3 separate regions of the Homo sapiens genome follow, and regions 1 and 3 are each linked to region 2. Evidence: fine-mapped expression QTL. A gene starts in region 2. Each other region holds a variant in brackets. All regions are shown on one strand. Distances are between the middles of the regions. Region 1 holds the start of MRPL11 (mitochondrial ribosomal protein L11). Region 2 holds the start of DPP3-DT (DPP3 divergent transcript). Region 3 overlaps TOP6BL (TOP6B like initiator of meiotic double strand breaks).

Evidence for each region.
Region 1: its variant is fine-mapped to the expression of DPP3-DT in whole blood (INTERVAL, PIP above 0.99).
Region 3: its variant is fine-mapped to the expression of DPP3-DT in whole blood (TOPMed, PIP above 0.99).

Annotation. Positions count from the first base shown.
Region 1 is chr11:66,430,031-66,440,501 of GRCh38, forward strand. MRPL11 (mitochondrial ribosomal protein L11) reads right to left here and starts at 8,818. Exons shown (of 5, transcript NM_016050.5): 1 at 8,602-8,818; 2 at 8,134-8,229; 3 at 7,320-7,413; 4 at 7,074-7,233; 5 at 5,045-6,082. The coding sequence starts at 8,724. The coding sequence ends at 5,977. LOC124900311 (small nucleolar RNA SNORA43) reads left to right here and starts at 2,733; the gene lies at 2,733-2,872. RefSeq lists a silencer at 8,577-8,716 and an enhancer at 8,807-9,066. The variant A/C (reference allele first, on the strand shown) is at 5,524.
Region 2 is chr11:66,475,428-66,485,550 of GRCh38, forward strand. DPP3-DT (DPP3 divergent transcript) reads right to left here and starts at 4,822. Exons shown (of 4, transcript NR_120586.1): 1 at 4,612-4,822. It overlaps PELI3 (pellino E3 ubiquitin protein ligase family member 3), which reads left to right. Exons shown (of 8, transcript NM_145065.3): 8 at 171-1,910. The coding sequence ends at 740. DPP3 (dipeptidyl peptidase 3) reads left to right here and starts at 5,007. Exons shown (of 18, transcript NM_130443.4): 1 at 5,007-5,038; 2 at 6,766-7,043; 3 at 9,746-9,835. The coding sequence starts at 6,774. RefSeq lists enhancers at 843-1,663, 2,301-2,894, 3,833-4,400, 4,977-5,146, 9,329-9,690 and a silencer at 4,787-4,836.
Region 3 is chr11:66,759,624-66,770,094 of GRCh38, forward strand. The region is part of intron 2 of TOP6BL (TOP6B like initiator of meiotic double strand breaks); the gene reads left to right. It also overlaps the pseudogene C1QBPP2. Among named protein-coding and RNA genes, the nearest start is that of TOP6BL, 20 kb to the left of the region's middle. The variant C/T (reference allele first, on the strand shown) is at 5,020.

The DNA.
Region 1 (10,471 bases), 45 kb before region 2:
GAAAAAAAGAAACCCCTCCCTGGTATTTGGTGGCAGTGACAGGAGATGGTAGAGTGTGTGTGGACAAGAAGGCACCCTGACACTCAGAACTGGAGAGCCAGGCCGTCGACCCATGCGGAGAAAGAAGTTGAGCGAGCCCATTGCGCCCCCTGCTGGACATAGAACCATCTGCTTCTGTTCCCTTCCCTGGCACGGTCCCTGTGGCTCAGAGCATCAACAATATTGCATCTTAGAATAGATGGGTAAACTGAGGCCCAGAGAGAAGAAAGGAATTGCCCAATGGCACTTCCAAAGTGGCTGCAGAAGCCAAATCTGACTCTCAAGCACCCTTGCCACCAACACCAGGTTGCTGCCCTGGGAGCAAAAAGGTATGAGAAAGGGCTGAAGTTTTGGAGTCACAAAGACTGAGGTCAAATATTGGCTCTGGCACTTCATTTTGCATGTGATAAACACTTATGACACCTACATGCGCCAAGGGCTTTGCTGGGTCCTGGGGAAAACTGAACAAGACAGACAAGGTCCCTGGACTCACAGACCTTACACTGAAGTTGTGGGGAGACGTAACAAAAAGTAAAATAACTCTTTAAAGGGAGCATGCAGTGCGTGCAGTGAAAGAAAGAACCTGTGTACTGTGGCCGAGCGGAACTGAGGAGGGGGTGCTAATTTAGAATGTGGCATCAGAAAGCTCTTCTAAGGTGACATTGAGCTAAGACCTAAAAGATAAGAAAGAAGAAGAGGCCGGGCACGGTGGCTTGTGCCTGTAATCCTAGCACTTTGGGAGACTGAAGCAGGTGGATAGCTTGAGTCCAGGAGTTTGAAACCAGCCTGGGCAACAAGGCAAAACCCCGTCTCTACAAAAAAAAAAAAAAAAAAAAAAAAAAAGCAAAAAGTTAGCCAGGTGTGGTGGTGTGCACCTGTAGTCCCAGCTACCCAAAAGGCTGAGGTGGGAAGATCACCTGAGCCCAGAAGGGCGAGGCTGCAGTGAGCCTTGATTGCACTTACACCACTGCACTCCAGCCTGGGTGACAAGAGTGAGACGTCGTCTCAAAAAAAAAAAAAAAAAAAAAAAAAAAAGTCCGGGCGCTGTGGCTCACCCCTGTAATCCCAGCACTTTGGACTTTGGGAGGCAGAAGCGGGCGGATCACGAGGTCAGGATATCAAGACCATCCTGGCTAACACGGTGAAACTCCGTCTCTACTAAAAATATAAAAAATTAGCCGGGCGTGGTGGCGGGCGCCTGTAGTCCCAGCTACTCGGGAGGCTGAGGCAGGAGAATCACTTGAACACAGGAGGCAGAGGTTGCAGTGAGCTGAGATTGTGCCACTGCACTCCAGCCTGGGTGACAGAATGAGAGAAAGAAAGAAAAGGAAAGAAGAAGGAAAGAAAGAAAAAGAAAGAAAGAAAAAAGAAAGAAAGAAAGAAAAGAGAGGAGAGAGAGAAAGAGAAAAGGAAGGAAGAAAGGAAGGAAGGAAGGAAAGAAGGAAAGAAGGAAGGAAAGAGGAAGAAGAGTGCTCCAGGTCAAAGAAAAGCAAAACTAAGGGTATCAAAATGGGAAAGGATTGACCTGTTTAAGGAATAGGAAAGAAGTCAGTGTGGCAAGGGGAAGAGTGGCTGGAGAGAAGGAAGATTACCCAGGGCCTTTGGACCAGGATAAGAAACTTAGATTTTATTTCATGTGCAATAGGAATCCTCTGGGGAAATTTAAGTGAGAGAACGACATATAATTCACATTTTTAAGCCATCCCACTGAAAGTTGTGTGGAGAATGGATTGAATGAGGTAGGAGGAGAAGCAGAGACCAGTTTAGGCTTCTGCAGTGATCCAGGCAAATAGGACGAGAACTCACACCCAAGTGCTTCCCTCAAGTCCAGGCGGAGGTGAGTGACTGGCTTTGGAATGCTTCAGAGGCAGAACTGACAGGATTTGCTAATGGATTTCAAATGGGGGTGAGGAAAAGAGAAGTCTCCTGTTTCTGACTTTAGTGAGTGAGTGAAGGGTTGTTGTTTACTTAGAAAAAACTGCCTGGTCACGGTGGCTCACGCCTGTAATCTCAGCACTTTGGGAGCCTGGGCGGATCACGAGGTCAGGAGTTCAAGACCAGCCTGGCCAATATGGTGAAACCCCATCTCTACTAAAATACAAAAATTAGCTAGGCGTGTTGGTGCGCACCTGTAGTCCCAGCTACTCTGGAGGCTGAGGCAGGAGAACTGCTTGAACCTGGGAGGTGGAGCTTGCAGTAAGCCGAGATTGTGCCATTGCACTCCAGCCTAGGTGACAGAGTGTCTCAAAAGAAAAAAAAATAGAGAAAAAGATGGAAAAATGGATAAGAAAGTTTTGTTTTTGTTTTCCTTTTTTTTTGAGATGGAATTTCGCTCTTGTTGCCCAGGCTGGAATGCAGTGGCATGATCTTGGCTCACTGCAACCTCCGCCTCCCGGGGTCAAGTGATTTTCCTGCCTCAGCCTCCTGAGTAGCTGGGATTATAGGTGTCCGCCACCATCCCCAGCTAATTTTTTTTTTTTCAGTAGAGACAGGGTTTCACCATGTTGGCCAGGCTGGTCTCTAACTCCTGACCTCAGGTGATCTACCCACCTCGGCCTCCTAAAGTGCTGGGATTACAGGTATGCAACACCACGTCTGGCCAAGAAAGCTTTAAAAGATAAGAAAGGATTCCCACCCTGGCCACAGGCTGGGTGTCTCTGGCTTGCTGAGTAGGTGTGGGTGACTACCCTGAAGATGCCTTCCGGAACATGCCAGCACCGCAGATGCTGGCAGTCTGCTGTGCCCGTGATATTGGGCAAAGAGGAAGTGGCTATTTCTACACTTGGTGTTCAGAAACCAGTGAGCTCTAAGAATGGTTTATAGCCTGACATTTCTTAGAAAAAAGAAAAAGTTAAACAAGATTCCAGGCATGGTGGCTCATGACTGTTATCCCAGCAGTTTGGAAGGCCGAGGTGGGAGGATCGCTTGAGCCTACAAATTTGAGACCAGCCTGGGGAGCATGGCGAAATCTCATCTCTACAGAAAAAATAACAAAAAAAAATTAGCCAGTCATGGTGGTGTTCACCTGTGGTCCTAACCACTTGGGAGGCTGATGTGAGAGAATCACTTGAGGCCAGGAGTTGGAGGCTACAGTGAGCTATGATTACACCACTGCACTCTAGCCTGGCAAAAGGGCGAGACCCTGTCTCAAAAAAGGAAAGAAAGAAAAAGAAGAAAGAGAGAGAAAGAAGGAAGGAAAGAAGGAAAGAAAGAGACTTCTTTTGGCACAGTGGCTAATGCCTGTAAGCCCAGTGTTTTGAGAGGCTGAGGCGAGAGGATTTGAGGCCAGGAGCTTGAGACCAGCCTGGGCAACATAGCAAGATACTGTCTCTTTAAAAAAACAAAATAGGCCAGACATGGTGGCTCACGCCTGTAATCCCAGCAGTTTGGGAGGCCAAGGTGGGAAGGTTACTTGAGGTCAGGAGTTTGAGATCAGCCTGGCCAACATGGTGAAACCCCATCTTTACTGAAAATACAAAAATTAGCTGGGTGTAGTGGCACATGCCTGTAATTCCAGCTACTCGGGAGGCTGAGGCAGGAGAATCGCTTGAACGTGGGAGGCAGAGGTTGCAGTGAGCCAAGACTGTGCCATTTCTTGTCTTGGAGACAAGAATGAAACTCCATCTCCAAAAATAACAACAACAATAAAAATAAAATAAAAGTAAATAAAAAATAAACATAATTTAAAATTCACCAGGCATAGTGGCATGCACCTGTATTCCCAGCTACTTGGGAAGCTGAGGCTGGAGGATCCCTTGAGCCCAGGAGTTTGAAGCTGCAGTGAGCTATTACTGCACCACTGCCTGGGTTACAGAGTAAGACCCTGTCTCTAAAACATTTAAAAATAAAAAAGCCAGGCGCGATGGATCACGCCTGTAATCCCAGCACTTTGGGAGGCCGAGGCAGGCAGATCACAAGGTCAGGAGTTTGAGACCAGCCTAGCCAACATGGCAAAACCTGTCTCTACTAAAAATACGAAAATTAGCCAGGCGTGGTGGTGGGTACCTGTAATCCTGGCTACTTGGGAGGCTGAGGCAGGAGAATTGTTTGAACCTGGGAGGTGGAGGCTGCAGTAAGCTGAGATCGTGCCACTGCCACTGCATTCCAGCCTGGGTGACGAGAGCAAGACTCTGTCTCAAAAAAAAAAAATTAATTAATTAAAAAAAAATTTTTTTTTTAAATGAAGTCTTGGCCAGGCACGGTGGCTCACACCTGTAATCCCAGCACTTTGGGAGGCCAAGGCGGGTGGATCACCTGAGGTCAGGAGTTCGAGACCAGCCTGGCCAACATGGTGAAACCCTGTCTGTACTAAAAATACAAAAAAATCAGCCAGGTGTGGTGGCAAGCGCCTGTAACACCAGCTACTTGGGAGGCCGATGCAGGAGAATCACTTGAACTTGAGAGGCAGAGGTTGCAGTGAGCCAAGATTGTGCCACTGCACTCCAGCCTGGGAGACAGAGTGAGACTCCATCTCAAAAAAAAAAAAAAAACTAAGCCACTAAGCCATCATTTAAAATTGTTTTAGATAATTTTTAGGCCAGGTGCAGTGGCTCACGCTTGTAATCCCAGCACTTTGGGAGGCCGAGGCGGGCAGATCATGAGGTCAGGAAATCAAGACCATCCTGGCTAACATGGTGAAACCCCGTCTCTACTAAAAATGCAAAAAAAATTAGCCGGTGTGGTGGCAGGCGCCTGTAGTCCCAGCTACTTGGGAGGCTGAGGCAGGAGAATGGCATGAACCTGGGAGGCAGAGCTTGCAGTGAGCTGAGATGGCGCCACTGCACTCCAGCCTGGGTGACAGAGCGAGACTCCGTCTCAAAAAAAAAAAAAGAAAGACAATTTTTAAATGTTCTAAATAGTTGCTAACTTGAAAGTATACAGCGTTGTACAGCTATATAGAGTATGACCCCAGTTTGTTTTTTCAAAAAGCATTATACATAAATACACACACAAAGAAAAAAAGGAGCAGAAAAGATATACACCAAATATTGGCAGAAGTCTCATCTGGGTGGTGGGATAACATGAGGTTTTTATTTTCTTTTAGGTGTTTATCTATGCTTTCCATATTTTCTCAGTGTAAAATGAAGTGTCTAGCACATAACAGATGGTCAGTAAATGCGAATCTCCTTTCTCCCCCAACTCCTGCTCTCTTCTCTGAAAGGACAATGAGGAAATAGAAGGCCAAGGGCTTCCCGAGGACTTCTCCATCAGGCAGGAACCTACTGAAGCTTTGCTCTTTCTGTGGTCTGTAGCTGTCAGCCCTACAATAGTTCATGTTCAGCCAACATCTGACCCAGAGCCAGGGTCAGGAGCTTAGTAGAAGGGCCTGAAGTAGCCCCTGGGATCTGGGTACTCCATGTAGTAACCCTGCCTGGGGCTGAACTGAGATCTCCACAGGGACTTGTTTCTGCAGAGGTGGCAAGTTGTTCAGAGATAAAAGAGATTTTTGATGGAAGAAGTAAGCAATACACCTCAGCCCTAGCA[A/C]CCATAGTTCCCACCCTGGGGAGGGGAAGAACACAGGATTTCAAATGAGAAGGCCTGGGTTCTATTCCTACCTCTGGCACCAATTCAGAACCTGGGCAATAAAACAAAATTATAACTTAAAAAAGAAAAAAAAGGACCTGGGCAAGTTACTTTGCTTGGCTGAACCTCAGTTTGCACATCTGAGAAGCAGTATGAAGACCCCAATTTCCTAATGTCTGCCCATATTGGCTACCACCAGTACTGGTTCCCTTCCCTGAGGTCCCAAGATAGAAGATGACAGTGGGTAAGAAAGGATGTTTATTCAGGCCTGATGCCTCGATACAGCTAGATGTACAAAAATATATCATTCAAAGTCATGAAAACCATCATCATATTGGTGTGACCTCCTTCCTCCCCTTGGGCACAGCTTTTGCAACTACCTCCTTTGAAATCTGGGAGTTGGTGGGGCAAGGGTCACTTCTTGGCAGCTTCTTCTTGGGCAGCCAAATCTGCCTCCTTCTGAGCAGCCAGGAAGATGGCTCGTTCCTTCTGGAAAGCTGCAAGCTCTTCTGAACTGAGGCTGCAAGTGAAAAAAGACAAATGGTTGGCGCATGATTGGTCACCAGTGGGAGCTCACAGGACCCTATGTCTTGCAGGGGCTTGAAGGGGCCCCTGTCTCCAAGCCCAGCTTGCCTGGCCCCTTCTGCCTCCCTGACTTCCCAGCCTCCATACCTTTGCTCATTTCCTCTCCAGGGACAACATCTCCCAACCCCCAACACCCCTATCTTTTGTTCCCTTATTAAATCCCTACTCATCCTTTGAGGCATCAGCCAGGCCCCAGTCCAGATTAACTGGGGTACTCTGTGCCCCAGAATATGCTGTACAATGACGTCACGGGGCTGAGCATGTGTGTCTCTCCCAGGACAGGGGTCAGATTTACCCATCTCCATGCTCCCAGTAAAAAAAAAAAGATTTGAGAAAATTCAAGTCTGTGTCTGCTCCATGCTTAACCCCATTCTTCTTGGGAAATAATCAATTGTCAGCCTTGACATGGGATGTAACACAGCAGCAAGAGGCCAGTAAAGGGTTGAATGCTATCTCTGTCCCGGCGGTTGTCTAGGCCAGACACCCTCCCACCCAACATCTTACTTCAATGAAACAATTCCTGAAGTCATCCGAAGCCCCATGACAGGGGTCCCTGTTTGCCTCAGGAGCAAGCATGAACCTGACACAGCTCAAAAGTCCTTCGCACTGGTCCTTCCCTCATACCATTCTCCACTTGCCTCTAGGACGACAGACCCAGGTCACACTGAACTTCTCCCACTTGGATCCTTCATGGAGATCTTTCCATTTCTTAGAACATTTGCAGAACAACGTCTAATACATAACAGGTGCCCAATAAGAGTATTCCAGATCAATGAATGTGGCCTCCCACCCCCACCCCATCCTCTAGAATCTAGGGTCCCTTGACTTAAAAGCTGACTTTCCCACTGCAATGGGCCCTCTCAGCTCTGCCCGAGTCCAGAGCTTTCTGGGCCCTCTCGTCACACTGCACATGCCAGGATACTTACTCCTTCACCACGCGAATGCCCAGAGAACGGGCAGACCCGATGATGGAGCGGACAACAGACGACAGGGGTACATCCTGCAGGGCAAATGCCTCATCCTGAGCTTTGATGCGGGCAATCTCATACACATGCTTCAAGGTCACCAGGCCTGCCACCTCTTTCCCTGGGAGGAAGGAACAAGTGGCTCTTCAGGTGTTACTGCTTCCTTCTGGAGCCCCCAGAATCTCAGATGCTTACCCTGGCCCTCACCTGTTTGCCGGGCCCCCTTTTCAATCCCAGCTGCTGCCTTCAGGAAGTAGGAAACAGTGGGCTGTCCAATCTTAATTTCAAATGTCCTGTCAGGCTTAACAGAAAAAAGAAATATGAGATTCTCTCTTCCTACTGCCCCATCCCAGGGAACTTCTAATGTCTTGCCCCCTGCTTCCTTCATCTCACTTTCCAATGGCATCCCTCAAAAAGACCACAGAATCACAAGAAAAAAATAAATCGGGGTCAGGCGCAGTGGTTCATGCCTATAATCCCAGCACTTTGGGAGGAAAAGGCGGGTGGATCACCTGAGGTCAGGAGTTCAAGACCAGCCTGACCAACATGGTGAAACCCCATCTCTACTAAAAATACAAAAAATTAGCCGGGCGTGGTGGCGGGCGCCTGTAATCCTAGCTACTCGGGAGGCTGAGGCAGGAGAATTGCTTGAACCCGGGAGGAGGAGATTGCAGTGAGCGGAGATCGTGCCACTGCACTCCAGCCTGGGCGACAAGAACAAAACTCCATCTCAGAAAAAAAGAAAGAAAAAAATAAATCTGCAGCAAACATCCCTGTCCCCTCTATTCCTGCCCTCATTCTGCTCTGGAAGCCCCAGTGAGATGGAGGGGCAAAGGGAGGAACTGCAACATGGCAAGATGGGGCTGGTTCAGAAAAAATATGATCTAGTCCTAAATGGGGAAAGTGGAGCCCAGTAATAGGAAGTCAAGTCAGGAGCAGAGAAACAACCCCAGATGACCAGTCCCAGGGCCGAGGAAGAACAGAGGGAGAAGGAAACCAGGGATCAGAGTCCAGACTCCACCTTCACTAAAATCTTGGTAGGCAGAGGAATGCCTTCCTTGATGTCCTTTGTCCTCTCATTGAACTCCTTGCAAAACTGGTTGATGGAAACGCCTCTCTGTGAGGGAAGCAGAGGGGGTTAGTGGTGAGAGGAGGGGACGGCTTCCTATCGCCCAGGAGGCGCCGTCCGTTCCCTCCTTCGTCTTCACTTCTCTGGGTTCCCATCTGTACCCAGATTCAACTACCCCTCCGTGAGCCAGAAGATCGTACGCATCTTCCCACGTTATCCTCATTACAGCACATTGAAGAAGGGATGAGGAAGCCCAGGTGGAAGACACTTTGTAACCAGCACAAGGACATAAAGCGTGTGAGAAGCAGAGCCGAGCTCTGAACCGAGGCCCGGGTGGTTCCAGGGCCAGCGCCCTCCATCCGCGTCCTAGCTTCCACCATCCTAGACAACCCCCACGTCGGGTTCCCGCCACGGCCGCACCTGACCCAGCACTGGGCCTAGTGGGGGCCCGGGCATGGCCAGGCCTGCCCGCACGATCGCCCGGATCACACCGCCGACCTCGGGCTTCCTGAGGCCCCGGGCGGCCCGGCCGAGCTTTGACATGATGCGGGGCTGCTGGCTTCAGTTCACCTCAGGGGAGCAGCAAGAGCGAAGCTCTGGGCGCCACCATCTTGGGCCAGAGGTCAAGGGTCCTCACGTTAGGCTAGGGCAGGTGAGGCCAACAAACAGCAGCCTTGTTTCAACCCTATTGCTCGCCAACTAGTAAGACAAGGAGGATGAGAGGAGGATAAAACACTTTTTAACTTGTTTTATGCAGATAAAGGAAGGGCCCGAATGGCCTAGGTACACACATTCCCACAGGAACGCGCACAGGCACTACCTCGGACAGCTAACCAGTAGGGTGGGACCTTGATACCCCATAGCATTGTGGGTATGGTAGTTTTGACTCCGTGTGCAGGTCCGGCCAATTGCTATGCGCCAGGGCGCCATCTGCTGCACACGGTGATAATCCTAGGGTTTGAAATACACCTGGAGCTCCTGATTGGTAATGGAAGTCTCTCCTCTCTCTGTTCCTCACATGCTGTTGAAAGGCAGTACGGTTGAGTGTAGACCCTGAGCTGGGCACGGTAACTTACGCCTGTAATCCCAGCACTTTGGGAGGCCAAGGCAGGAGGATCGCTTGAGCCCAGGAGTTTGAGACCAGCCTGGGCAACACAGCAAGACCCCATCTCTACTGGGCGGGAAGATCAGTTGAGTCCAGAAGTTGGAGGCGGCAGTAAGCCAGGATTGCGCCACTGCATGTGAACTTAATCAAGTTTCTTATGCTTTGTCTCCTCCCCACTACAGCAGGTATTGTAATATGTAGCACCTACCTCTTAGGATTGCTGTGAGGACTAAGTTAGCAAAGTGCTTAAAACAATGCCCGGCACCTAGTCAGCATGTGCTATTATTAACCGTACGATTAAGATAAAACCTGAGTTGTTGTGAGGCTTAACAGACCCAGAACATTCGATATATCATCTGTGACCAAATAAGCCAGCATCTTATTGTATCATGAGGAGAGCAAAAATCACCTGGTGACCTTTGAATCATGAGGAGAGCAAAAATCACCTGGTGACCAGAGACAAAAACTCCTTATCTGAGGAATTGAAAAGTAATTAAACTTCCCTAGTGTGTCCGGAATTGGTGGGTTCTTGGTCTCCCTGACTTCAAGAATGAAGCCGTGGACACTCACGGTGAGTGTTACATTTCTTAAAGGCTGCGTGTCTGGAGTTTGTTCCTTCTGATGTTTGGATGTGTTCTGAATTTCTTCCTTCTGGTGGGGTTCATGGTCTCGATGGCTCAGGAGTGAAGCTGCGGACCTTCGCGGTGAGTGTTACAGCTCTTAAGGCGGCGCGTCTGGAGTTGTTCCTCCCAGTGGGTTCGTGGTCTTGCTGGCTTCAGGAGTGAACCTGCAGACCTTTGCGGTGAGTGTTACAGCTCACAAAGGCAGTGTGGACCCAAAGAGTGAGCAGTAGCAAGATTTACTGCAAAGAGCAAAAGAACAAAGCTCCCACAGTGTGGAAGGGGACCCGAGCGGGTTGCCACTGCTGGCTGGGGCAGCCTGCTTTTATTCTCTTATCTGGCCCCCGCCCCACATCCTGCTGATTGGTCCCTTTTACAGAGAGCCGAGTGGTCTGTTTTGACAGGGTGCTGATTGGTGCGTTTACAATCGCTGAGCTAGACACAAAGGTTCTCCATGTCCCTACTAGATTAGCTAGATACAGAGTGTCCACACAAAGGTTCTCCAAGTCCCCACCAGAGTAGCTAGATACAGTGTCCATTGGTGCATTCACAAACCCTGAGCTAG
Region 2 (10,123 bases):
CATGTGCCTGGGATGCACCTGCCTGCCCACTTGGCCTCCTAGCCTGCCTTGCTCCTCTGCCCTGCCTGCCCTGCCCGCCAGGGTGTCCTCTCCAGGGAGGCTCTGTGGGATGGACCCGCGGCTCAGCAGGGGCCTCTTGGGCAGTAAGGCCCTTCTACTGCCTCTGGCAGGTGGAAAACGAGTCCAACGTGCTGCAGGACGGCTCTCTCATCGACCTGTGTGGGGCCACACTGCTGTGGCGCACACCGGCGGGGCTGCTGCGGGCTCCCACACTGAAGCAACTGGAGGCCCAGCGGCAGGAGGCAAATGCAGCGCGGCCCCAGTGCCCCGTGGGCCTCAGCACTCTGGCCTTCCCCAGCCCAGCCCGTGGCCGCACAGCGCCCGACAAACAGCAGCCCTGGGTCTACGTCCGCTGCGGGCACGTCCATGGCTACCACGGCTGGGGCTGCCGGCGGGAGCGGGGCCCCCAGGAGCGCGAATGTCCTCTCTGCCGCCTTGTGGGGCCTTATGTGCCTCTATGGCTTGGCCAGGAGGCCGGCCTCTGCCTGGACCCTGGGCCGCCTAGCCATGCCTTTGCACCTTGCGGCCACGTCTGCTCTGAGAAGACTGCCCGCTACTGGGCCCAGACACCACTGCCCCACGGCACCCATGCTTTCCATGCCGCCTGCCCCTTTTGCGGGGCCTGGCTTACCGGCGAGCATGGCTGCGTCCGCCTCATTTTCCAGGGCCCGCTGGATTAGGCTCCCTGGGGCCCCCTGCTGCTGTGCCCACCTGCCCACCCAGGTCCCCACCTCCTGCAGCCCAGAGGGAGCTCTGCATGTGGGACACTCCCTGCTGGCACAGCCACACCAGATGGACATGTTGGATGGGCTGTGCCCTTCCCCCCAACTGTGGCCCCCCAAGGAGGTCCCCAAGATCTCCACCCCAGTCATGCTGATGGGGCCTTCAGCACCAGCTCTGTCCTGGGTCGATGGAGGAAAGCCCAGCCCCATGGCCTTGCCCTTCCTGGGGCATCCCACATCGTGCCGCCGACACTGTGTGCCCCTGGGGGAGTGAAGGGGCCAGGGGCCTTTGACCCCCAGCTTAGGCTGGCTATGCCCTGAGCCTGCCAACCCAGTTTCAGACACTCATCCTTCATCCTTCCTGCTGCCGCCCTGGGTTCCTCTATAAACCTCGCTGCTCAGCTGCCCCCACAAGTCCCACATGCCCCGCATGCGTGCAATGCCTCCAGCCCCCAAGTGAGTGGTGGGTGGGTGGCAGGCTGGGCCTAGCACTTGCTGATAGCCACTATGGGCTCGACTCTGTGCTAAGTGGTATCTGGGGACACAGAGGCAATCAGACCTGGTTCCCCCCCTGGTGGAGTTCACAGTCTAGTGGAGGACAGACTGTTAACAAATGGCAACACGGCTTCATGCGTGCCAGGATCAGAGTACAAATCAGGCTGTGGCAGGCCTCACTGGTAATGGAAAAGTGAGGGAGGCTTCACGGAGGAGGTGTCATAGGAGCTCAGCCTCAACGGCTGCTCGGAACCCTCCGAGTCCACAAGATGGGAAGCAAGTCCACAAGATGGGAAGCGTGCTCTATACAGAAGGGAGGGCCTGTGCACAGGCTCAGGTGTCAGTAAGCCAGAAATCCAGGGACAGAGTCAGGATGGCTGGAGCATGGACTGCGGGGGGAACAGAGAAGGGGGTGGAGCAAAAGGTTGGGACCATGTGACCAGGGAAGATGCTGGATGGAGGATTCTGAACCTCATTTGTGGACGGTCAGGAGTCAACAAAGGGAGGAGAGAGGACTCACTGGTCAAGAGTGTCGGCTGTGACACAAGGGCCATCATCCCTGAATGCCCACCATGTGCCCCGCACTGTGCTGATGATGATAATAATAACTACGTCCATTGAGCACTCTCCAGACACCGGGCTCTGCTTCTTGGAGGTTTTGTTATTTAATCCTCATAGTAACCCAAGAAGGGAGGTGTTGCCATTTTTGTCTCTGAGGAGATGAGGGCAGATGCACCAAGTCACACAACTAGAAAGTGGCCAAGCCAGGATTTGAATCCACAGCTGCTCCTCTCCATCACAGTGTTGCTTTCCTTCAACAGAGGTGGGGGTGAACCAAGCAGGGTTTTGGATACTAGATTGGTGGACACCCACCTGCTTCGTGCCCAGCCCTGCGCAGGGCCCCTGCAGTGGGCAAGGCCGGGCCTCTTGCAGCCCATGGTCTGCAGAGGGACCTACCCGTGCTTGTGTTGGAAGCTGGCCCCCACACCTGTGCTGGCCACCTGTACCCCAGGCCAGGATGCAGTGGGCTATTAGCCAGGCTGGAAGTGTTCAGAGGAGTGAGAACCAGGGGCTCTAGAAGGCCCAGGGAGGACCTGGAGCCTGAGCCAAGTCTTGAATGGCAGAGCATCTCCAGAGGCAGAGAGGAGTTGGGAGGGCAGCCCAGGTGAGGGGAACAGCATGGTGTGGCAGGGAACATGCCTGGTGTGGAGGGGGGCAGCAAAAAGGAATGGGGGGTAGGGAAGGTTGCTGGGGCCTGGTGGGCCTTGATTGCCATGGAAGCCAAGCCTGAACTGGATTCCTATTCATCCTGGCCACAGGTGGGCGTGTTGCTGGGGTTGCCCCAGACCATTCCTGCAGGGAGCGAGCCAGGAAGACAGGCAGACGGCTGTTCTGGAGATGAAGAGAAGAAGGCTCTGAGTATAGGCCTGACCTGGGCATCGTCCCCAATAGATGACAGAGCCTAGGGAAGTACAGATTCCAAGGGGAGGGATGGACCTGACCAAGGCCACACAGCTGGTTGCGGCCAGGGAGATCAGACCTGGGTTATTGAGAAGACAGAGGGCACCCGAATGTGATGAGAGAAGGAGGAGGGTGTGATCAGATTCTTGCTTCCAGAGCATGGCACTGCTGCAGTGGGGGTGAAGGGGAGGGTGGGGATGCTGCAGGAGGTGTGGGAGCATTCCAACTTCTCTCCCCTCAACATACACACAACACACAAAGCACTCAAAATCCAACTCTTCCAAGTTCTCTCTTCTGACCCTGTTGGGAACCAGGCAGGGGAACATTCTGATCCCATTTCCAGTGGGGAACCTCAGACCCTAGGAGGAAAGACCAGCAAAGGGCACCACAGTAGATGCTGGGGAGGATTCAGAGGTATTGGTGGAGGAGGTCAGAGCCCTGGTCTTGTCCCAGCTCTGCCTTTGCCAGCTGTTAGAGCCTCAGTTTCCTCAGTGCTAAAGGGGATAACAGTCACTACCTCGCCAGGTGGTTGTGAATATACAGAGAGCACCTGTAACACAGTTGATTCGTAACTGTTGCTCCTCACCGACCCCTTTTGCATTCCCATGGGGAAGAGCCAAGGCTGGGGAGTTATGACTCCAGTGATAGACTGCTCCATGTGAGTGACTGTGTGTGTGTATCTCTATGTTGGGGCCAGGGATATCTGAACTGTGTGGTGTTATAGGAGTCGGCGAACCTCTTAGCCTCAGTTTCCCTATCTGTACAATGGGTAAAGTGATCATACCTCAGGATTTTTGCAAGAATTAAATGAGGTCCTCCATGCCAAACTGCTAGCAAGGGACCTCAGTATATGCTCATCTTATCTGTGATCATAAAAATGTGATCACGTAGCTGGTTGGGGGGTCCTGAGAGCACTGGGGTCTTTTCCTTGCCTGAGCTGCCCCCTGCTGGCAGTGGGCAGCACTACCTCCCTTACCTGTGCACATTTCAACTTCACCTGTCAGCCAACTTTATACCCATTTTAAAGACAATGAAAACGGAGGCACAGGAAAGAAGAGGGGTGACTTTCCTAAGGACACCGACCAACTTGTTGAACTCCCCCATATAACAAGTAATCATCAAAGCTAACAGCTTGTAACACTGTTGTGTCAAGCAGGGCCTTGGGCACCTTTGTGGATGAGAAACTGGTGTCTATGGTAAGCAGAGGCTGTCTGGCCTAGACACGGGCGTAGCAAGGAGACCGTGCGGGATTTCAGTACCCAAACGCCCCTCACCCTGCGCAACTATAGGGAGCGGCACTGCAGTCAACACATCACAACTTACAATATCCCTTGGATTGGATTCAATTATTAGCCTGGTTTTCCGGTTCATAAAGCCAAGACTCCCAGACAACCTCACTCCACCCCCCAGTCTGACCCTGGGCCCTCACCACTACTCCCCATTTGGCCTAGGCCCTTCCGCATGCCCCACCCAGACCGTGGTCCCGTGAGTCCGTCCAGACCTGTAAAAGTGGACCGCGGGCCCGCCTCTGCTCTGGACTCCCTTTCGGGGCCGCAGGAGGCTTTCTCATCCATCAGGCATCTGGCAAGCACCAGGAAACTACCAGCCTGTTTGTGCTAAGGAAACTGAGGCTCGGGAATGTTTAGCGGCTCCTTCCAGGCCCGTGGCGGGTGGGTGGTGGTACAGTGAAGCAGTCGAGGCGTTTCTCCGCGCCCCTACACGGGTGGGACCACCTCAGCCCTGGCCCGATCCCACTCAACCGTAGCCCCGATTCCCGGCACCGAGAGCTTTGCAACTTCCAAGTCTCCACCCCCAGGTCCCGAGTCCCGAGAGGAAGGTGGAGCCACATTACTCCTATTGTGTAGGTTCCCACCTGCAAGAGTGCTGTCGGGTCCTCTGAGGTGAAACCCCAAAGGAAAGCGGGATCGGGACTGGGGGAGGGGGATTCCCAAGTCCCTGACACCCGCGCCGTCTCGGCCTGGGCTTGGTGACCTCGTCAGTCCCGTCTGCCGGGACTAGGCCGCGGCCAGGCCGGGCACAGCGGTACCCGGTCCGGCGCGTGTGCGGCCTGCTGACAAAAGGCCGAGCCCGCAGGGCCAATCCGCGCGCCACCCCGTAGCGCCTGGGGGCGGGAGCGGGCGAGCCGAGAAGCTCGTCTTGGCGCGTCTATTGGCTGGTACTGACGCCCATCCGGACCCCGAGGCCAGGCAGTTGGCCAAGGGGGGCGGGGTTCGCAGAGCCCCAATGAATGGGGGAGCCGGAAGCAGGAAGTGAGTTTGCGAACGGAGCAGCTGCTGCAGGTGAGGCGCGGCGCCTGGGCTTTTGGGGTCAAAGCGTGTCATCCCGGGGGACCAAGGCGAATCCATACTGAGCGCAAAATCGTTCCCTTTCTGCCCACTCTCCAGTACCCCCTCCAAATTCACCCCGCCCTCGAGGCCAAGGAGTGCTCCGGGGAGCAAAGAGTTAACAGCCCTTTCCGAACCTCGAGGCTGTGCTATTGGGGCGGGGCTTCTGGAGGCCGGGGCAGGGCGAGGAGGCTGGACACTCTGTCCCAGCCGGGACGGGGCGTGGCGGGGAGAATGCCCCGGGTTGGGGAATCCCCGGGTTCCAACGGGGCTGTCAGACCTTCAGTAAATTGTTGCCCTTTCCAAGCCTCAGTTTCCCTATCTGTAAAATGGGCTTTCTTCTGGTTGTGAACTTCTGTGGCTTCCCTGGTGGAGCACAGGGAGCGAGCAGGAGAATGGAGGGCCAAGGAAAAGGCATTTAGAGGGATGAGAATGGGACAGTTTCAAGCAAAATCATTTATTGCTGTGGATACTTTCCGTCCAGGGCGACTTCATCTGATTAGCGCACCCACCTGGTAATATTGGGGTTATTCTCTCTTTTATAGAGGAGGAAACGGAGGTACAGAAAAGTGAAGCAATGGACTTGACTTTTAGGAGTCTGGGGCCGAGTCCTGGCTAAAGGCTGAGCCTTCCAGCTGGCGGCCTGGCACTTTATCCTTGTGAGCACAGTGGAAAGTGTAAAGAATTCTGAACAAAGGCCAGGCGCGGTGGCTCACGCCTGTAATCCCAGCACTTTGGGAGGCCAAGGCAAGCAGATCGCTTGAGGCCAGGAGTTCGAGACCAGCCTGGACAAAATAGCGAGACCCCGTCTCTATCAAAAATACAAAAAATTAGCTGGGCATGGTGATGCACGCCTGTAGTCCCAACTACTTTGGAGGCTGAGGCAGGAGAATCGCTTGAACCCGGGAGGCGGAGGTTGCAGTGAGTCAAGATCATGCCACTGCACTCCAGCCTGGGCAACTAAGTGAGACTCCGTCTTAAAAAAATAATACTGAACAAGGAAGCAGGGAGGGGCCTGGGCTGGGAGCCTAGAGATGAGGATCTCTGCTGCTGATGTCTCCATTGTGGGATTAGGCAAGGCTCTTAGCCTCTCTGAACCTCAGTTTCCCCATCTGTAATACTAGGTAGTTAGAGTCAATCAATTTTTTTTTTTTTGAGGTGGAGTCTCACTCTGTTGCCCAGGCTGGAGTGCAATGGTGCGGTCTCAGCTCACTGCAGCCTCCACCTCCTGGGTTCAAGTGATTCTCCTGCCTCAGCCTTCCCAGTAGCTGAGATTACAGGTGCCTGGCACCAAGCCTGGCTAATTTTTGTATTTTTAGTAGAAAGGAGGTTTCACCATGTTGGTCAGGCTGGTCTTGAACTCTTGACCTCAGGTGATCCACACACCTCGGCCTCCCAAAGTGCTGGGATTACAGGTGTGAGCCACCATGCCTGACCTTAGAGTCAATCTTTAAGGTTTAGGGACTACAGACCAAATATGGTCCACCAGTGTATTTTGTGACCCCTTGGGTGAGTCATCTCACCTTCTCTAAGCCTCAGTTAGCATATCTGGTGAATGGGTACAATAGTATTCCCTTCCACATGGGCTTTTGGGAGGATTAAATGAGATCATAAGAGTTCAGAGCCAGGTATGCAATTGGTATGGGGTAAACAACAGCTGTGATGACAGTGATGGTTCTCAGCAGGGCCCATGGCGGACACCCAGTACATCCTGCCCAATGACATCGGCGTGTCTAGCCTGGACTGCCGTGAGGCCTTCCGCCTGCTGTCACCCACAGAGCGCCTCTATGCCTACCACCTGTCCCGTGCCGCCTGGTACGGAGGCCTGGCTGTGCTGCTTCAGACCTCCCCTGAGGCCCCCTACATCTATGCTCTGCTCAGCCGCCTCTTCCGCGCCCAGGACCCCGACCAGCTGCGCCAACATGCCCTGGCTGAAGGCCTTACCGAGGAGGAGTATCAGGTCAGTTCTCTTGGGCCAACCCACATTACCTGAGTGGCTTCTGGGTGTGAAAGACCAGGATGCAAATGTCTGTCTCTTTCAAGGGGTAGGTGGAGGATTAGACCAAAGGTTACAAATTCAGGCACTTCCCCTCTCTGGAGCCTCAGTCTTCTCACCCGTAAAATATGCATGTGGGATGTCTGTACCTCTTAGTGTTGTGATGACCCACTTAGAACAGTGCCTGACTTCAAGATAAATGATGGCTGCTGTGATTATAACAAAAGAAACTGTGGTGGAGATTCAGGGAAGGCAGAAGAAGGAGTCCAGAGTAGGTATCAGGAGGTCTGAGTTCAGGACCAGTTCTTCTCTACCACACTGTGTGGCCCTGGGCAGAATGTTCTGCCTGTCCCTTGGTTTTTGTTTTTGGATGTATTGGCCAAGTAATACACAAATTCTTAGTGCATTGCAGCAATGCAGAAAGACACAAAAGAAAACACAAAGATCACTCATTCTCAGTGCCCTCCTCAGAGGTAACCCACTGAGGCTGATACAGCCTTTTCTTTCTCTCTCTTTTTTATTTTTTATTTTTTTTTTGTGACAGAGTCTCATTCTGTCACCCAGGCTGGAGTGCAGTGGCGTAATGTTGGCCCACTGCAAACCTCCACCTCCCAGGTTCAAGCACTTCTCATGCCTCAGCCTCCCAAGTAGCTGGAACTACAGGTATGTGCCACCACACCGGGCTAATTTTTGTATTTTTAGTACAGGTGGGTTTTCACCATGTTGCCCAGTCTGGTCTTGAACTCCTGGCCTCAAGTGATCCACTTGCCTTAGCCTCCCAAAGTGCTGGGATTACAGGCGTGAACCATCGTGCCCAGCCTTGGTTACAGCCTTTTCAATCCCATCTGTGTATTACATACATTTATGTGTATATGCATGGTGAATCAGTTCCTTATTTTCTTTTTTATAGAAATGAGATAATGTTCTTTTCCTGCTTTGTGTCCTGCTTTTTCCATTGAATGCCATGTCTTGAAGAACTTGGAGAATGGGGTACATTTAAATGTACCTCATTCTTTTTTATTGACTGTAAAGCATTCCACAGCAGTGTACACTATAATCAATTTAATCTTCATTACTGGACATTTAGCTTGTCCCGTTTTTCTTACAAACAGTGCCATGGTGAGCATACTTGTGCACACATGTGAGGAGGATCTATTTCTAGAAGAACTGCTGGGTCAAAGGCTCTGTACATTTACAATTGACTGATTCTGTTAAATCATCTTCTAAAAAAGCTTCACTGCATTATATTCCCACCAAGAATGTACAAGAATATGGCCTGTTTTTCTATATGTGAAATAAAGGGATTGGATTGTTTCTCTCTGAGCTGATGTACTGTTTATTCTACCTCTTTTGAACTTTGGGCATTCACTTCCCATCTTGAGGCCTTGGCTTACTCATTAAAAGAGCTAATATCCGTGGAAATGTTTATAAACAGAAAGGTGCAACCCAAGCGTTATTATTTTCAGGGAAATTCTTTTTTTTTTTTGTGGGGGACGGAGTCTCGCTCTGTCACCAGGCCGGAGTGCAGTGGCACAATCTCAGCTCACTGCAACCTCCAACTCCCTGGTTCAAGCGATTCTCCTGCCTCAGCCTCCTGAGTAGCTGGTATTACAGGCATGCACCACCACGCCCAGCTAATTTCTGTATTTTTAGTAGAGATGGGGTTTCACCATGTTGGCCAGGATGGTCTCAATCTCCTGACCTCGTGATCTGCCCGCCTCGGCCTCCCAGAGTGCTTGGGATTACAGGTGTGAGCCACCACGCCTGGCCATTTAGGGGAATTCATATGTTTGCAAGTGGCAGAAACCCAGCTCAAATTGGCTTACATGAAAAGGAGAATTGTTGGGTCACATGCTTGAAAAGTCCAGGTCTAGAGGAAGTTTCAGGCATGGCTGGACTCGGACTCAGTGCTACCACTGGGATGCAGTCTTCGTCTCTCAGCTTGCTTGCTTTTCTTACTCCTGGAGGGGAGCTCCAGGAGTTCCAGGCCTGATGATCCCTGGTGTACAGAGGCTCTTTGCCAATGGGAAATGTCCTGGGTAGCTCTCTTATGCCAGCTTGAGCCTTGTGTCCATCCTGTAGCCAAGGATGGTGGTTTCTCAGACTGACTGAGCCAGGTTACATGCCCACCCCTGGAGCTGGGGGAAGGGAGATCCCCCACCCCACCCTCCCACCCACAAAAGGAGGATTGAGGTCTTGTTACCAGAGGAAGATCTGGGGCCAGCAGAAGCCATAGAATAGACAGATGATTAAGGCCTCTCCGGCTCTAACATGTGATGCTTCCAAGGCCAGCTGCCTGACAGGTCAGAGGCTGAGGACAGGCTCTGGAGAAAGAGGGAGGTGCTGCTGGAACTGGGCCTTAAAGGACACAGTAGCTTCAGGTGGCTGAGAGGGTGCTGGGGTGGGGAGGGAAAAGGCAGACGAATGCTTGGGTGTGTTTGGGAACTGCCCAGAAGATCAGTTAGGCCAGACAACGGGGGTGTGAAAATGGGTCTGTGGAAGTGAGTGTGGGCCAGACTGGGGCTTCCCAGGACCTAGGTCCTGCCCACACATTTCCCAGCCTCACCCACACTGGCTCTGCTGGGGCATTCGCATCTCAGGAGGAGGTGTCGCTGGGGTCAGGGAGGCTGTGCTTCCTGGGTCTCTGATGCCTGCCTCCCCCTCAGGCGTTCCTGGTCTATGCCGCGGGTGTTTACTCCAACATGGGCAACTACAAGTCCTTTGGTGACACCAAGTTTGTTCCCAACTTGCCCAAGGTGAGCCAAGGGAGGGTTGGGGAAGGTGGGGATGGGGGGCTGGTGGGGTAGAGATGGAAAATGCAGTAGAAGGAGCCCCAACTGGAGTGTCAGAAGCCCTGAGCAGAGCATGGACCCTGTCGCTTCCACCCTGCATGACTGTGGGTGTCACCAGCCTCACTGGGTGCTGCGGCCTCTTCGTGTATAAAGGAAAAGCACCACTCGCCCTGACTGCTGATCCGCAGGCTGAACAAGGGCGAGATGTGGAAGTGTTCTGTGAACTTTTAGGTGCTCTCAAAAATGGAGCTT
Region 3 (10,471 bases), 280 kb after region 2:
CCCAGGCTGGAGTGCAGTGGTGCGATCTTGGCTCACTGCAACCTCTGCCTCCTGGGTTCAAGCAATTCTCCTGCCTCAGCCTTCCGAGTAGCTGGGACTACAGTTGCATGCTGCCACACCCAGCTAATTTTTTGTATCTTAGTAGAGATGGGGTTTCACCGTGTTGCCATGCTGGTCTCGAACTTCTGAGCTCAGGCAATCTGCCTGCCTCGGCCTCCCAAAATGCTGGATTACAGGTGTGAGCCACCATGCCTGGCAGAATTTCTTTTTATTTTTTTGGACTTAAGAATACTCTACAAGCCAAAGGCCATAACATTTATTTTAAGGAAGCCAAAATGACCTTAGAACTCTTACGCTTTCATTTTTATTTCTTATGGTTGTTTGCTACATAAGTATTATCCATTGGCCTATTTTTTCCTAATGAATTGTTAATTTACAAATTTTACAAAATAACTTTTAAAAATAAACTTTCCCAGACTAAATCTGGAATATTAATAGATTTTTAAAAGCTTATATCTGTCCTTGCTTTAAGAAAATATACTGTAGCCAGGCCCAGTGGCTCATGCCTGTAATCCCAGCACTTTGGGAGGCCAAGGCAGGCAGATTACCTAGGTCAGGAGTTCAAGACTGGTCAACATGGTGAATCCCCATCTCTACTAAAAATACAAAAATTAGCCAGGCATGGTGGTGCATACCTATCTATAGTCCTAGCTACTTGGTGGGGCTGAGGCAGGAGAATCCCTTGAACCCAGGAGGCAGAGGCTGCAGTGAGCCAAGATCATACCATTGCACTCCAGCCTGGGTGACAGAGTGAGAGACTCTGTCTCAAAAAAAAAAAAAGAAAACATACTGTGTATTAAAATGGCAACAACTGGCCAGGCACAGTGGCTCATGCCTGTAATCCCAGCACTTTAGGAGGCCAAGGCAGGCGGATTGCTTGATCCAGTAGAACTTTTTGGAGTTCAAGACCAGCCTAGCACCATCACGAGACCCCATCTTTACAAAAAAAAAAAAAAAAAAAAAAAAAAAAATTAGCCAGGGAAGGTGGTGCACACCTGTACTCCCAGCTACTTAGGAGACTGAGGTGGGAAGATTGCTTGAGCCTGGGAGGTAAAGGCTGTAGTAAGCCGTGATCACACACCACTGCACTCCAGCCTGGGTGACAGCAAGACTTGGTCACAAACAAACAAACAAAAAAAGGGAACAACCAAAAAGCTACATTGGAAAGGTATAATGTTATAAAATAAATGTTTATGAAATGTATTACCATTTTTTAATGACAAATTTTCTTCGTGCTTTGTAAAATGCAAATCAATTAAAATTTGAATTTATACCCAAATTTATAGCAACTCAATTATTACTTAAAGCACCTTTTTTTTTTTTTTTGGAGGAGATAAACCCATTTTATTGTCTATCATGTTATACAAAAATCTAGAAATAATAGATTTGTATAGAAAACAACGATAGGCCGGGCGCGGTGGCTCACGCCTGTAATCCCAGCACTTTGGGAGGCTGAAGTGGGCGGATCACGAGGTCAGGAGATCGAGACCATCCTGGCTAACACGGTGAAACCCCGTCTCTACTAAAAATACTAAAAATTAGCCGGGCGTGGTGGCGGGCGCCTGTAGTCCCAGCTACTCCAGAGGCTGAGGCAGGAGAATGGGGTGAACCCGGGAGGCGGAGCTTGCAGTGAGCCGAGATTGCGCCACTGCACAACAGCCTGGGCGACAGAGCGAGAGACTCCGTCTCAAAAAAAAAGAAAAAAAGATAAAAAGGAAAAAAGAAAAAAATGATAATAAATGAGGGTGCAAAACATAGAATTTAAATTTGGTATTTTTTCCCCATGATATTAGGATGATAATCATTTCAAAGCACATGTCTAGCTTCATAGTAGGATTTGTTCACTGGCCAAAGCCTGCCATAAAACTATGGCTTTCAGTGTCTGTCTGCTCTACTGGCTCTTGACAAAACTTTTGAGGTCTTCAAGAAAAGTAATGTACGCCTGGTGCTCCGGGGCTGTGCGAAGCTCCACCAACTCATCTGCAAAAATGTTGTCCACCCCTTGGTCCGCAAGGAAATCCATTAGGTGGTCATATAAGGCCCAGTCCAGGGAATCTGTGTTGAGTGTATAGTTAGTATCCTTCCATTCAAACTCGCTGGTGGACCAAAAGCTAACTTCCCTGATAGAGAAGATGTCACTCAGCCTCCTCTTCTTGTCCAGCTTCATCCTCTGGATAATGACAGTCCAGCACAAGGGCCTTCTTGCCATCATTCTTTATAGCTTCAACCACGAAATGGGGAGTTGATATCAATTCAGGGTCTTCAACCTTCTGCCCTTGCGAGGGTTCCTCCTCACCATCAAATGTTGGTGGGATGCTGTTGTTAATATTGAAAGTGACAGTGATTTTTTCCCCCCAGCAACTTTCCGCACTAATTTAGCTTCTGTCCCATTCAGTTCCAGCTCCCAAACTCCAGACATCTTAGGAAGGGTTTTATGCTTCTGGATTTTCCTTTCCTCCTGAATTTCATCACTCAGGAAATCAATCAAAGCTTTGTCTCCTTCGCACGCCACACCCACAGCCGGAGGTGCAGGGCCCGCGAGGCCGCAGGGGGCCCGGCCGCAGAACACGCGCGCAAACTGAGCAGCCTGAAGGGCGGGCGCACAGCCGGGGCGCCGGCCAGGAGCTGCCGGAAAGGCGGGGCGGGCCCCGGGGGTGTGGAAGCCGGCGACGCAGAAGCCCAGCATATGGGGCACTCAGCGCAGCAGTGGCAGCATGGCGGAGAGGACTGCGAACATGTGCGGATGCAAAGGACAACCCAGGCCTAGGTACCCAGAGTACCCTTTTTTGTTTGTTTGTTTCTTTGAGACGGAGTCTCGCTCTGTCGCCCAGGCTAGAGAGCAGGGGCGAGATCTTGGTTCACTGCAACCTTCCGCCTCCTGGGTTCAAGCGATTCTCCGGCCTCAACCTCCTGAGTAGCTGGTATTACAGGTGCGCACCACCACGCCCAGCTATTTTTTGCATTTTTAGTAGAGACGGGGTTTCACCATGTTGGTCAGGCTGGCCTCGAACTCCTGATCTCGTGATCCGCCTGCCTCGGCCTGCCAAAGTGCTGGGATTACAGGCGTGAGCCACCGCGCCCGGCCAATACCTTTCTTTATCTTGGTCATATCAAAGAAAACAAACTATTTTTACAACTCAGTTACAAGATGAATACTCTAAAGACACAAATATATAGGAAACAATTCTACCTTTTGAAACTTCTTTTCTGAAGTAATTTTTAGTTGAAGAATGGAGACAGGCCAGCTGAAGTGTCTCACACCTATAATACCAGCACTTCGGGAGGACAAGATGGAAGAATCGCTTGAGCCCAGTAGTTAGAGACTAGCCTGGGCAATATATTGAGACCCCCATCTCTACAAATAAAGAAAATTAGCCAGGCATGGTGGGGCATACCTGTAGTCCCAGCTACTCAGGAGGCTGAGGCAGAATTGCCTGTGCCCAGGCATTTGAGGCTGCAGTGAGCTATGATCATGCCACTGTGCTCCAGCCTGGGTGACAGAGTAAGACTGTTTTTAAAATAAAAAAGAATGAGGACTTAAAAATGCTTGTTGCTAAATGAAGTGATCAGATGTATTCCCCTTTTCCTTTGTAAATTGTCTTGGCCCTCTGAATCTACCTTCCAACTGTCTGTATCCTTGGATATTTTACAGACTTCGGCTTTTGCTCTGTGACCCTAATTTTGTTTAGGTTCTACTTGGTGTGAGCACATTAATGTTTTTTGTTTTATTTTGAGCACATTTAAAAACTAATTGTGGAGGAAAAGTAATAAAAAATGAGATTTTAAACATTATTATTATTATTATTATTAGAGATGAGGTCTCACTATGTTGCCCAGGCTGGTCCTGAACTCCTGGGCTCAAGCAGTCCTCCCACCTCGGCCTCCCAAAATGCTGGGATTACAGGCATGAGTCACTGCACCTGTCCTATTATTATTTTTGAGACAGGGCCTTGCTCTGTCACCCAGACTGGGGTGCAATGGTGTGATCATGGCTCACTGCAGCCCCAAGCTCCTGGACTTGAGCCATCCTCCAGCCTCAGCCTCTTGAGTAGCTAGGGTCACATGTGCACACCTCCATGCCCAGTTACTTTTTAAATTTTTTCTAAAGATGGGATCTCACTTTGTTGCCCTGGCTGGTCTCAAACTTCTGGTTGGTCTCAAGCTCTCATGCAACAGCCTCCCAAAACGTAGGGATTACAAGTGTGAGCCACCCTGCCCAGCCAAGATTTTTATTTTAGCTCCAGAACATTCTGTGAGCATTTGGTAAGAATGTTCTCCCTTTAGTATTAATCACAATGATAATTTATTGAGCATTTACTATGCATTAGGCCTTGTGCTCCACTTAAAGGTAGTTATAGTAGTGAACAAGACAGATTTGGTTTCTCCCTTTATACCCCTAGTGAAGATACCTTAATTATTCTATTGCCTCTTTAAGCCTATGCCTAGAAAAAAGGGAATATCAGCTATTGTCCTGAAGAGTTTGCTCTGATTCTGAGACTTTTGGGAGATCTGAATCCAAGTTCAAGAATCATGGGCTGACTGCTTCAAAAACATCTAATTATTTATAAGTTTTTCCTTGTTCATTTTTGAATTATTGTCTTTGGGTTGATGCAGAGAAGGGAAAGATCATTCCTAGTGGCCCTGCTCCTGTTAATGTCTGTGAAATTGCTTTGAAAGAAGTGAAAATCGGCCGGGCGCGGTGGCTCACACCTGTAATCCCAGCACTTTGGGAGGCCTAGGCGGGCGGATCACAAGGTCAGGAGTTTAAACCAGCCTGGTCAACATAGTGAAACCCTGTCTCTACTAAAAATACAAAAAAAAAAAAAAAAAAATTAGCTGGGGGTGGTAGTGGGCACCTGTAACCCCAGCTACTTGGGAGGCTGAGGCAGGAGAATCGCTTGAACCTGGGAGGCGGAGGTTGCAGTAAGCTGAGATCATGCCACTGCACTCCAGCTCGGG[C/T]GACAATGCGAGACTCCATCTCCAAAAAAAAAAAAAATAAAGAAGTGAAAATCTGGCCAAGCATGGTGGCTCTGACTAAAATCCCAGCACTGTGGGAGACTGAGGTAGGCAGATTGCTCGAGCCTTGGGCAGCATGATGAAACCCCATCTCTACAAAAAATACAAAAATCAGCCAGGCATGTGAAAATCAGCTAGGTGTGCCTGGGGTCCCAGCTACTAGGGGGCTGAGGCAGGAGATCCATTTGAGCCCAGGAGGTCAAGTCTGCAGTGAGCTGTGATTGCGCCACTGCACTACAGCCTTGGTGACAGAGTGAGATCTTGTCTCCAAAAAAAAAAAGCTATATAAATGGAGTATATTATTAGCACTAGGGAGGAGATAGGAGCATTCCTTGCAAAATAAACCCACACTTAATGTGCTTGTACAAGGAGTGGTCAGATCATATATAAGGCTACTTGTTTGACTAATATTTGTGAAAGTGCTTTGAAAAAAGTGAAAAGCCGTGTAACTACAAGAGAATAGTTTTATTATCATTGTTACTCTTAGGGAGTATCATTTATGGGTTATCATTTATGGAATAACCACATACTCATGCCAATACAAACTCTAGACAATTTTTGTCATGGTGACTTAGTTTTAATTTAACTGTTACTTTAAAAACTCAAAGCAATTTCATTTAATCCTTATTGTGATAAAGTGTGAGTGGCTAACTCTTCGTACAAAGAGGAAGTACTGCACATCAAGTACATAATTAAAATTGAATCATTTGCTCATGCTCAATCACATTTAGTAGCCAACTGTAGCCTAAGTCTTCTCTCCAGTTGTTAGGGCTCTTAATATTAACCTCCACTCAATAATGCTAGTTATTCTTTTTGTTTGTTTGTTTGTTTTTGAGATGGAGTCTCACTCTTGTCACCCAGGCTGGAGTGCAGTGGCGTGATCTTGGCTCACTGCAACCTCTGCCTCCTAGGTTCAAGAAATTCTCCTGCCTCAGCCTCCCAAGTAGCTGGGATTACAAGCGCCTGCCACCACGGCCAGCTAATTTTTATATTTTTAGTAGAGATGGGATTTCACCATGTTGGCCAGGCCTGTCTCGAACTCCTAACCTCAGGTGATCCACCCGCCTCGGCCTCCCAAAGTGCTGGGATTACAGGCGTAAGCCACTGTGCCTGGCCTAGTTATTCTTACTAATTAGTAACAAAAATTACTCAGTGAACCTCACAAAGGAAATTGGTGAAGAATAAGACAGGAATCCCTTAGCTCCCTGGTTTATGCACCATTAATTATGCCTTTTTTACTATTATTATTTAGAATTTCTGACACTATTAAGCTAATAGCAAACTGCTTTAAATTGGTCCATTTACTGATCTTTACACTGTTTAGTTAGCTTCATCAGGGAGTCTCTGGCAGCTGGATTCATTACTCATCAGTTTTCTAGATGCTAAAAAATTGTGTATCTATACAAAGTTAATATGTCTGTAAATTCAGTTTAACTCTGTTGTTTTCTTCATTATTTGGCTGATTTCTCTCAGTGTCTAAAACAAGTGGTCTGACCCTTCTTTAGGGGAGCTGAACTGTTGAAGAACTATCAGCTTTAGTTTCCTTTACTCTTCAATCTGTTCTACCAGGGTTGTATCAAGGTACTTTTTTCTCTGGATCTGGAATACTTTAGATCAATTCCTGTACCAAATAGGCTCATATTTCTGTGTATTTTATTTATGCTGGATTAATAAGCAATGACCATTGTAATCTCCCTACTCACCTACTTCTCTACTGGTTTATTTTCTCTTTTTTCCCCTTTCTTCTCTGGTCCCTAACTATTTATACTTTTATTCAGTAAACTTTTATTGTAACATCTACCTTGCCACAAAGAAGTCACAGGAAGTAGAGGCAGCTCTGCAAATAAAATGCAGTGTGATTAGTACTGTAATGGAGGTGTAAGTTGAAAGAGCTTCTCTCATAACCCAGAGGATATTCCCCAAAGTTCAGTCACCAATGTGCTTTTCTTCCCTTCATTATTCTGCATCATTATTCTACATTCAATTCAGACAGCTTTTCTACTTTCAAGACTTTAACTAACATTAACTATGCTGATGAGACTTATTTTTCCCCCTCTTGATCACTGACATGTCTCCTAAACTCCAATGGAATAGCTTTGAATGTCAATTAGACTATTCCATTTGAGAGTTCCTCTGAAATATCCTGTGTAACATGTCTAACATGGGGTTCAGTTTCTTGAAATGAACTTATTGTGTAATGTCTGCATTCCTTTCAGTGATATTGACATACTCATAATTCTCCAGCGTTAAAAATCTTGGTTTTTATGGTGGGGTTTCTCCTTTTTTGTTTCCTCATTATGTAATTGATTTTTCGTTAATTCTGCCTTTATAATATAAAATTCTTATTAATTTAAACATAGCTTACATTCTTCCCTTAATGATTCCTTATTTATTATTATATTAGGTCTAAGTACTTCAGACCAGAGTTAAGGCCTTCTCTCAAGAGGATAATCCCCTCTACTTTGCAGAATAATGCCCATTAAGATAGATAAGTTCTTATGTGTTTAAAAAATTGTCACTACATGTTAAATGTGTGCTACTGTCTGCATTGAATACTTATCTACTTAGGTATAATTCCATTTATATATTCATTTATGTGTATACTTATCCATTTATATAGAACTATTTCTATCATAAATGTCTTTTAGTGAAACATGATTGTTTCAGTTTGTCCTATTTGCTCAGCTCTGCTTCCTATTATGTCCTTATTCAAGTGAGGAAAGGAAAGTGGATGGAGGAATATGAAAAAAATCCATGTTTATAGATCTTTATTTTGCTGCTTTTTCCTCTTTCTTCTATTCATATTATTTTTATTTTTGTCTTTTTAAAATAGCTTCTCATTTCCATGTTTATTGACATAACTTAGCTCTTTATACAGTATGGCCAGTTATTTTAAAAAGATGTGCAAGTGTTTTTCCCAAATAAAATTTACAGCCTTCTTTTTTCTTCATAAGACTAGATAAGAATACCAGTCCTTGTAAACAGGGAGGACTGCTTTGCTGTTGATATATGGTTACATGGCTATGATAGTTCAGTTTTTGCCTCTTCCCTATATGCTACCCTTTTGGTGTCAGGGAGACTTTTTTGTTGTTCATTGTTTTGTTTTTTGGAGGCAGGGTCTTGCTCTGTTTCCCAGGCTGAAGTGCAGTGGCATGACCACAGCTCATTGCAGCCTTGACCTCTTGGGCTCAAGGGATCCTCCCATTTATAGCCTTCTGAGTAACTGGGACCACAGGTGTGTACCACCATGCCCAGCTAGTTATTTTATTTTTTGTAGAGATGAGATCTCACCATGTTGCCCAAGCTGGTTTTAAACTCCTGGGCTCAAGCGATCCTCCCACCTTGGCCTCTCAAAGTGTAAGGATTACAAGTGTGAGCCTTCATGCCCAGCCTGTTTATTTTCAAGTTTACTTTTGTCCTCTTTGTTAATTTGTTGGGAAAGAAAGTGAGGAGTGGTGCTTTTCATGGGTTAGAGAGATTGACAGGTCCAGACTTGCTCAACATTGAGTAAGAAACTCACAATGGTGAACTCTTGAATGTCTGACGTAATCAAGTTTTTTTTTTTTAAGTCTGAGATTCTTGTATTCAAGAATAAAAATCTATTATAATTTTATATCTTACAAAATCAACAACTCTAAGGCTCAGAATTTATCTAACGCTTTTTCCCCCGGGAGCTCATTTTGTAGACATGATCTCATTCATTCTTGAGGAGCAGTCAGACATAAGTGTTATCATCATCTCTGTTTCAGAGATGAGAAAACTGAGACTTAGCCTCATATACTAAGAAGGGAAACATTTGTAGACTCATAGGTTGCTGGTTATCCATTAAACTGTGAGAGACTACACTTAATTTTAAGCTTTTGATACATTCTAAACAGGCTGTTGTTGCCAAATTTACCTAACGCTTGGTAAGATTTTATAAAGGTTGGCTGAAGATCAAGACACGCTAAAACAGATTTTTGTTTTTTGTTTTTTTTTTTTTTTGCTTCCTTAATATTTCTTTACTCTTTTCCTTGTTACATTTATCTAATTGCACTTCACTATTGAGAACATGTTCAAGATTTGATGTGACAGAAGGGGATGGAAAGGACAGAAGTGGTTTTTACCAACCCTGACATATTCCTTTTCCTTTTGAACTTGGATAGATAAAACAGGAGGAAAAGGATAGCTCTTATTATTAGAGATCCTGGGAGCTGGCTCATTCTCTGGCTGAGTGGTACATAACTGCTTTTATTCAGCAGCCCATGAGAGCTAACCTGCCTTGTACCTGGCTGGCTTAAAATGCTTGAACTGTTACAATTCCTCATTGAGTAATCAGCTGGGCACTTACTGTTCCAACTCTGTCCTTCTGGGTTACCACACATCTTTCATCTTCTCAGCTGGGAACACAAGGAGAGTTGTCTCCCTATAGTGGTATAGTGGAATTTGGCTGGAATGGGAAGAGGGGATACTGTATTTTTTCTTGAGTAGACTTTATGGCTAGCCATTTAATACATTCTGAAAAATGGTCAGATGACATCACATAGAAAAATTACCTCAAAATGGATCAAAGAACTAAAGCTATAAAACTCTTAGAAAAGAAAGAAAGGTTTAAATCTTCATGACCTTGGATTAGGCAATGTTTTCTTGGATATGACATTTAAAGCACAAGCAACGAAAGGAAAAGTAGAGAAATTGGATTTAATCAATATTAAAAACTCTTATGCTTCAAAAGATGATACTAAGAAAGTGAAAAGATCAATTATACCTAAAAAAAAAAAAGCTGGAAAATGAAGGTCTCTAGTTCCAAAACTCAGAAAAAAAAGGTGAATAAATAATCCACAGATAAGAAAAGTCTAGTATCCAGTGTACATATAGAACTTATACAACAACAATTAAAGGACAAATAGCAAAATTCATATGGTAAAGCCCCAACCCCCAGTGTGATAGTATTTGGAGATGGGGCCTTTGGGAGGTAAGTGGGGTTAGATTAGATCATGAGGGTTGGGCCTTCATGAGATTAGCAGTTTTATTTATTTATTTATTTATTTATTTACTTATTTTTTAATTTTTATTTTTTGAGACAGAGTCTCACTCTGTCGCCCAGGCTGGAGTGCAGTGGTGCAATCTTGGCTCACTGCAAGCTCCACCTCCCGGGTTCATGCCATTCTCCTGCCTCAGCCTCCCGAGTAGCTGGGACTACAGGCGCCCACCACCACGCCCGGCTAATTTTTTTTTTTGTATTTTTAGTAGAAATGGGGTTTCACTGTGTTAGCCAGGATGGTCTCAAACTCCTGACCTTGTGATCCGCCTGCCTCGGCCTCCCAAAGTGCTGGGATTACAGGCGTGAGCCACCACGGCTGGCCTGAGATTAGCAGTTTTATAAGAAGAGGAAGGGAGAGAGAGATTATTCTCT